Homo sapiens: one gene and its partner. The protein of the gene in region 1 purifies or fractionates together with the protein of each later gene. This does not show direct contact. Each region holds a gene or a part of one and is shown on either strand. Other genes may lie near its edges.

Evidence for each region. The genes of interacting proteins can lie anywhere in the genome.
Region 2: the proteins of ABAT (region 1) and CMBL fractionate together in Homo sapiens (co-fractionation; one large-scale study listed by BioGRID). This does not show direct contact.

What each region holds. Positions count from the first base shown.
Region 1 is NC_000016.10:8,677,617-8,681,116, forward strand, and holds part of ABAT (4-aminobutyrate aminotransferase, mitochondrial isoform 1 precursor), read left to right. Parts: intron 1-3,500. UniProt on the Homo sapiens protein: Catalyzes the conversion of gamma-aminobutyrate and L-beta-aminoisobutyrate to succinate semialdehyde and methylmalonate semialdehyde, respectively. Can also convert delta-aminovalerate and beta-alanine.
Region 2 is NC_000005.10:10,305,103-10,309,400, reverse strand, and holds the start of CMBL (carboxymethylenebutenolidase homolog), read left to right. Parts: upstream 1-1,498; 5' UTR 1,499-1,776; exon of another isoform or gene 1,777-1,886; intron 1,887-4,298. UniProt on the Homo sapiens protein: Cysteine hydrolase. Can convert the prodrug olmesartan medoxomil into its pharmacologically active metabolite olmerstatan, an angiotensin receptor blocker, in liver and intestine. May also activate beta-lactam antibiotics faropenem medoxomil and lenampicillin.

The DNA.
Region 1 (3,500 bases):
TTCAGCAGCGCCTCTGGTCTCTACCCACTAGATGCCAGTGACACTCCCTACCCCATGAGTCATGTCCATCAGAAATGTCTGCAGACATTGCCAGATGTGCCCTGGGGAGCAAAATCATCCTTTTCCTTCGCTATTGAGAACTGCTGGTCTAATACATGGCCTTAAACATAGTTGATACTTAATATAAAACAGCTTCCTAGCTGAGGCGGGTGGATGGCTTGAGCCCAGGAGTTTGAGACCAGCGTGGGCAACATGGCAAAACCCCATCTCTGTAAAATACAGGAAAAAAAAAATCAGCTGGTCATGGTGGCATGCGCCTGTAGTCCTAGCAACCTGGGAGGCTGAGGTGGGGGGATTGCTTGAGCCCGGGGAGGTCGAAGCTGCAGTGAGCCATGATCACACCACTGCATTCCAGCCTGGGTGACAGAGTGAGACACTGTCTCCAAAAAAAAACAAAATAAAAACCAAAAACAGCTTCTTTCTTGCACAAGCTCCTCGTTTTGGTTTCTGTGTAATGAGGAGAAGGAGATGTGTCTAGCTGTGGAGCCTTCCAATATTAATAACAATTTTTAATTTCTCACATTTACACAAGACTTTCTTGTCTGGTTTTTGTTTTTCTCTTTAGTAGAGACAGAGTCGGGTGGTCTCTAACTCCTAGGCTTAAGCGATCCTCCCGCCTTGGCTTCCCAAAGCACTGGGGTTACAAGTGTGAGTTACAACCAAAGCGCTGGGGTTACAAGTGTGAGTTACAGGAATAAGCCACAGCACCCAACCTACACAGGACCTTATCATCTCCAAAGCACTGTTGTGTCTATGACACTGTTTCTCACTCTACAGATAAGCAAACTAAGCCTCACAAAGGTTAAAAGACTTGTCTAAGACCATCACCCGCTTCTCCACCAGGCATCAGAGAAACATCCATGCCAGAAATTGTTTGAGAAACAACTGAGTTCTGGGCCTTCTTCAGATTAGTTATCAGGGTCTTTCGAAACTTCAATGGCATGCTCTTTGGTCCAGCAATCCCACTTTGAAAAATCTCACACAGAAATGCTCACACTTGCACTGACATAACATAAAAATGTCCATGGCAGAGCTTGCAACACTGGTATGGGAAGGGATTACAGTATATGCATTCATGTGGGAGAATGAGTAGATTTTAGATGAATGAGGTGGATCCACATTCCTGACCTTGAAAGGTTCCTGAGTCATATTATTTAGTGAAAAAGATAAAGTCACAGAATCAACATAGCCAGTATGATCCTATTTTTTTTTAAATGTAAATATGCATGAACATGGATAGTTAGGGAAGTGGGGAATTAAAAGGACCTAGATAGTATGTATGTATGAGAACATATTCCTGGGGGAAGAAGAAGAAAATAAATCTCCGCCAGCTTCCCATGCATTAAAAATGAGCAAAGTGGGCTGGCCACCTTGTCTCACGTCTGCGATCCCAGCACTTTGGGAGGCTGAGGCGGCAGAATCACTTGAGCCCAGGAGTTTGAGGCTGCAGTGAGTTGTGAGTGAGCCACTGCACTCCAACCTGGGCAACAAAGGGACACTGTAAATAATTAATCATAAGATAAAAATTAAAATGAATAGAGCACAACCCACAGAGGTTGAGAGACTTGCTAACACCAGAAGTTGCCAGTGGTGAAATTCAGCTTTGAGTTTGCTGATAGTTACGGGGCCAAGAGACAGGAATCTGAGGCTCATCTCAGCAGGCCAAGCCTCCTTCCTTACTGTGGGGAAATTCCTTCTCTGAGCACCTAGAGGGATCCTGGTGTCAGACTGACCTCACCTGAATCAGGCTTCCACCCACGTGATGACCTCAGGCCAGCCACTTTAACTCTCAGTGCCTCATTTCTCTAACTTTAAAATAGCTAAAAGGCAAAGGAAAAAACATGAAAGCCAAAAAAAAAAAAAAAGGTAGAAGGAGGAGGCAATAGTAGAACCTCTCTCATTGGGCCGCTGTGAGGATTACATAAAACCATGTGTTCCGACCCCCAGTACTTAGTAGGTGCTTAATTAACACGAGCCCTGGTCTCTCCTGCCTTTTTCTCTGCTTGCCTGCTCCTTGCCAGGATGCAGAAGACAAAAGCCTCAGAAAGGACAGTGGGGGCTCCTGAGGCCCCAAGAATGCTTAGCAGGCTGAATCAGTTGTCCTCACTTCTTCACTTTGCCCTCTGATCCACCATGACCACTCTGCTGCAGGAGCTTTTAACAGAAAGCCTGGGAGAGCATTCTGAGGGGGTCTGTGCTATAGCTCTTCCTCCCTGGGGTCTAACCATCCTTGCTTTCTCTAGACACTCCACACATTAAACTGTCTTGCCCGTTGCAGGGATGGGATGGCATCATGTGGCCTCTAATTACACATCCCTTCAATAATAAGATTGACTCTCCAAGGGCAAGTTTTCCTCCTCCTTCAAAAGCTATCTCACATTGCGTCTTTTACAGGTAGTCTTCCCCGACCCTCCCCCACCTCCAGCCAGGAAAACCATTTCTCCTCCTCCCAACTCCTGTCATCCACATCCTAGACTTCCTGGGTCTGCCACATCCTATTCTTCCTGGGTCCATCACATCCTAGATTTCTTGGGTCCATCACTGTTTGCTGGATTTCTTCCCAATCCATAATTGCCTGGAAGCAGCCATCACATCCATCACATTTATTCTTGTGTCTTAAATGCATAGCACACTTCCCTATGCACACAGTAGATATTCAAGGAGCATTGACTGAATGCAGAAAAGTATTTTTTAAATTGGGGTAAAATACACATAACATGAAATTGACCATTTTCATCATTTTATTTTTATGTATTTTTTTGGGGGGCAGGGGGAATCTTGCTCTGTCACCCAGGCTGGAGTGCAGTGGTGTGATCTCGGCTTACTGCAACCTCTGCCTCCTGGGTTCAGGCAATTCTGACTCAGCCTCCCAAGTAGCTGGGATTACATGTGTGGGCCACAACCACGCCCGGCTAATTTTTTTGTATTTTTAGTAGAGACGGGGTTTCACCATGTTGGCCAGGCTGGTCTTGAACTACTGACCTCAAGTGATCCGCCTGCCTCGGCTTCCCAAAGTGCTGGGATTACTGGCATGAGCCACTGCGCCCGACCTCCATTTTTTGATTATTATCATTGGGGTCACTGTGGCAGGTGTGAAGCAATACCACATTGTGGTTTTGATTTGCATTTCCCTAATGACTGATGGCATTGAGCATCTTATGTGTTTGTTGCTTATTTGTATATTATCTTCAGAGAAATGTCTACTCAAGTTCTTTGCCCATTTTTGAATTGAGTTGTCTTTTTGTCTTTTTGTTCTTGAGCTGTAAGAGTTCTTCTTTTCTCTTTTTCTTTTTCTTTTTATTTATCTATTTTTTTTTTTGAGACAGAGTCTCACCCTGTCTGTCACCCAAGCTGGAGTGCAGTGGCATGATCATAGCTTACTGCAGCCTTGACTTCCCAAGCTCAAACAATCCTTCTGCCTCAGTCTTCCAAGTAACTGG
Region 2 (4,298 bases), on another chromosome or scaffold:
TGAGGCAGGAGAATTGCTTGAACCCGAGAGGCGGAGGTTGCAGAGAGCCGAGATGGGACCACTGCACTCCAGCCTGGGCGACACAGCGAGACTCTGTCTCAAAAACAGCAACAGCAACAACAACAACAAAAACATCATAGATAGACTTGGGTAGCTTAAACAACATTTATTTCTTATAGTTCTGGAAGTTGGAAGTCTGGGATGGGCCAGCAGGATTGGGTTCTTGGTGAGTATCCTCTTCCTGGCATACAGATGAGGAAGCAAGCTCCCTTGCCTCTTTTTGTAACGGCACAAATCCCATTCTTGGGGGCTCCACCCTCATGACCTAAGCATCTCCCAAAGGCCCCGCCTCCAAATACCACCATGGGCGGGGTGGTTAGGATTTCAACGTACAAATTTTGGAGGGGACACAAACATTCAGTCCATAACAACACCTTTGCAGTGGGGATGGCAGGAAGTGCGGCCACCACGGTGCAATGGCTTTTTAATGTGCCCATTTGTCCAGGCTGAGCTATATTCCTAGAATTCCCTTTTCCTGTATGTTTCCAGTTTGAGTGAGCCACAGGGGTGTGCTTCTGCAGCCAAGTTGAAGCTGTTGTCATAACCTTGGGCAGATGACCAGAGAAAATACGAAGGAGGCAAGTATGAAACGTGTATTAATTTCTTTTTTAAAAAAAGGCTTAATTTGGGGCTGGGGCCGGGTGCGGCGGCTCACGCCTGTAATCTCGGCAGTTTGGGAGGCCGAAGCAGGTGGAACACTTGAGGTCAGGAGTTCGAGACCAGCCTGGCCAACACGGTAAAACTCCGTCTCTATTGAAAACACAAAAATTAGCTGGGCGTGGTGGCGCGTGCCTATAATCCCAGCTACTGGGGAAGCTGAGGCAGGAGAATCACTTGAATCCGGGAGGTGGAGGTTGCAGTGAGGTTGAGGTTGAGATCGTGCCACTGCACTCCAGCCTCGGCAACAGGGTTAGACTCCATCTCAAAAAAAAAAAAAAAAAAAAAAAAAATTGTGGCTGGGCATGGTGGCTCACACCTGTAATCCCAGCACTTTGGGAGGCTGAAGGGGAGGATCACTTGAAGCCAGGAGTTCGAGGCTCCAGTGATCTATGATTGTGTCACTGCACTCCAGCCTGGGTGACAGAATAAGACCCTATCTCTAAAATAAAATAAAATAAAATAAAATAAAATAAAATAAAATAAACAAAAAATAGCTTAATTTGTATTTACAACAGAAGTTACTTGTCTTGGAAGCCAGGCACGCACGTAAATCTCACAGAAGGCTGGCTGTCTTCCTTCTCCTGGCCTCCCTGCCTCCTCCCTCAAGGCTGCCTGATTCTCTTCTCCCTTCCTCTCTGCGGTTCCCTCCCTCCCACCCCCTCTCCCTGCACCTTTCTTTATCTTGGAGCCTCTCCCATCTCTCCCTCCCTCTTCCTCCCTACCCCACCCTCCGACCACCCCACTTCTTCCCCTCCCCTCACACTTCCCTCCCTCCCTTCTCTCGTCTCCTCCCCACTGCGCCTCCCTCCCTCCTGGCCTTCCTTCCCTTCCCCGACTTTGCAGATTTCTCTTCCCCCAGGCCTCCCTCCTCCACCTCTCCGCCCCCTCCGGGCTTGGCTCTCCCAGGAGGCTACGACTGGAGCCACTGGTCCCGCAGGATCCCCGCGTCCTCGGTCGCCGCGTCCACGTCCCTCTCGCGTCCCCGCCCGGCGCCACGCCGCCTCCTCTGGGTTCGGCCTCCGCGCGGTGCAGCGCAGTCTCAGGCCGCGGGACAAGGTACGTGCGCGTCCCCGGGGCACACAAGCCCACACAAGCCCGGGCCCCGCTCCTCTGAACTCCCGCGTGTGTTCTGACTATGGCAAAGAAGGTCTTTGCCGCGTGCACGGGTAAGGAACTTCCCATAGTCCGTTTTCAGAAGCTGACTTTCATAAAAGTGATACGTTGTCCTTGCAGAACAGCAGCCTCCACGATCCCATGCGTCCGAAGCAGCCGCTGTTTACATTTTGGTATTTTCCTGTAGGTGTTTCGCCATGCATTTTAAAGACATAGTGGAAATCACACCGTATGCAAACTTGCGTTCGTTTTGGCCATTTAGCACGGAGGAGCCTTTCCACCATGCCGTTAAATACTCCTTGTAACTCTCTTCCTGCAGTGAGACATTCTGGTTGTAGCGTTTTTACTAATATAAAACTATTAAAAAACTGAGCATATTTGCAACTAAATCAGCATCCACATTCGACAGCTTTTCTTTAGGGTGGGTATTAAGAAGAGAGGTGCTGGGTCTATGGATCTAAGAGTGGGACATCCTAAATGCTGGGTAGGTGTGCCAGGAACGACTGGACAGTTTACACCCCACAGCCATGTGGGTCGGGCAGGCCTTGGAAACACTGGGCACTGAGATTTATGTCCACTTGCTGATGGAAGATGCCACCTGTTGTTTTCAAAGCCCATTTAAAATAAAGTGGTTAGTAATGAGCCTCGCCGGTATCCGGGGAATCCTGTCCAGGCCTGGGAACCCTATCCAGGCCTAGGAACAGCCAGAGAAAAAGCAGATTCTGCAGGGGCGTCGTTGGCATGTCTAAGAGGGCCATTGTGGGCTCATCCAGGTAGCTTCCTAATTCATGCTATCTCGACCATAGACACTTGGAAAATACAAGCATGGCTGCTGAAAAATAAATATTTGGAGAAGTTTGATGTTTGTAGAATCATCTAAGGATAAGTACTGGCCCTGCCTTCCCTGCTGCAAGATTGAAAATCACTTGCCATGCAAGTTCCTACAATGTTTAAGCAGTAAAGGAGAAACCTCCTGCCTTTCCCATTAGACCCCACTTTCCTGTGTTGTCTTGGGGTCCTCTGTAACCCTGAGCCCTGGATGCACTTCCACGTGGTTTCTATTTCTAAATTTCTAAAGCTTCCAGAAATGTATTCCTCCCTTCTCTCCTCTCCTCCCCGCTGCGCCTCCCTCCCTCCTGGCCTTCCCTTCCCCTACTTTGCAGACCTCTCTTCCCCCAGACCTCCCTCCTCCTCCTCTCTGCCCCCTCCGGGCTCAGGCTCTCCCAGGAGGCTGGAGATGTATTCCTAGACTTCCCTGCTTGTTATAATCCCAACTGCACCAGTCCCTTTTGCTTGTCAAAATCTGTTTTCTCTATTTCTGTTGGAGAACTGCGTTGTGCCTGGAAGTCTGACTTGTGAGTTATTTGAATCCTTAGGGCGTGAAATCAGGAAAACCACACCCTCACCATACTTTATCACCTCTCTTACCTGTCTGACTGCCAGTGTTAGAAAGGGAATGTTTGATTACATTGTTAAAAGATAATTTTCAGCCAAAGGTGAAATCGTGACTTTTATACAGATATAAAAGTGATAAATATTTTATTTTATTCATTAAAGAGAGAAATAGGCAGATGTTGTAACTGGTTCAAAAAAGAAGTCAAGAAGTGCAAATGTATACGGAGTAAAGGAGTGCCTTGTGAAGGTACACGCAGGAGAGGAGCATACCCTTGGAATTTGCAGATCAAACACTCAACTGTAAGATTGGGCACAGTGGCTCATGCCTGTAATCCTAGCACTTTGGGAGGCCGAGGTGGATGTATCCTGAAGTCAGGAGTTTGAGACCAGCCTGGCCAACATGGTGAAACCCAGTCTCTACTAAAATACAAAAATTAGCCAGGCGTGGTGGCATGTGCCTATAATCCCAGCTACTCAGGAGGCTGTGGCAGGAATATCGTTTGAACCAGTGGGGCAGAGGTTGCAGTGAGCGGAGATTGCACCATTGCACTCCAGCCTGGGCAACAGAGTGAGACTCCGTCTCAAAAAAAACAAAAAACAAAAAACAAAAAACACTCAACAGTGATCCCCATGGGTTTTGATGTGTAATTTTCCAGAGGGACATGCTTGTGTTAGGCAGAGTGAGGCTCCTTCACCCCTACAGAGTGACTCCTGTGGCCCCTCCAGCTCTGCCTCACACAAGCAAATCTCTCTGGAAAATTACACATCAAAACCCATGGGGATCACTGTTGAGTATTTGATCTGCAAATTCCAATTCCATATGCTCCTCTCCTGTGCATACCATCACATAGAAGTCATTCACACATATGCAGCACCTTGCAGCAATGTCTATGGGGAATCATGCATTTGTGCTGGTGGTGGCCAGTGTGGGCATTGCCGACGAACATGGCCACCAGGGTGTCCTGCAGGGCACTCCACAGAGCTAGGAAAAGCGTCCTGATTTCCAGAGACGTCACCAGTGGAGACCACAGAACTGACCTGGGGATGACCAGAAGGTGGCCCCAAACACA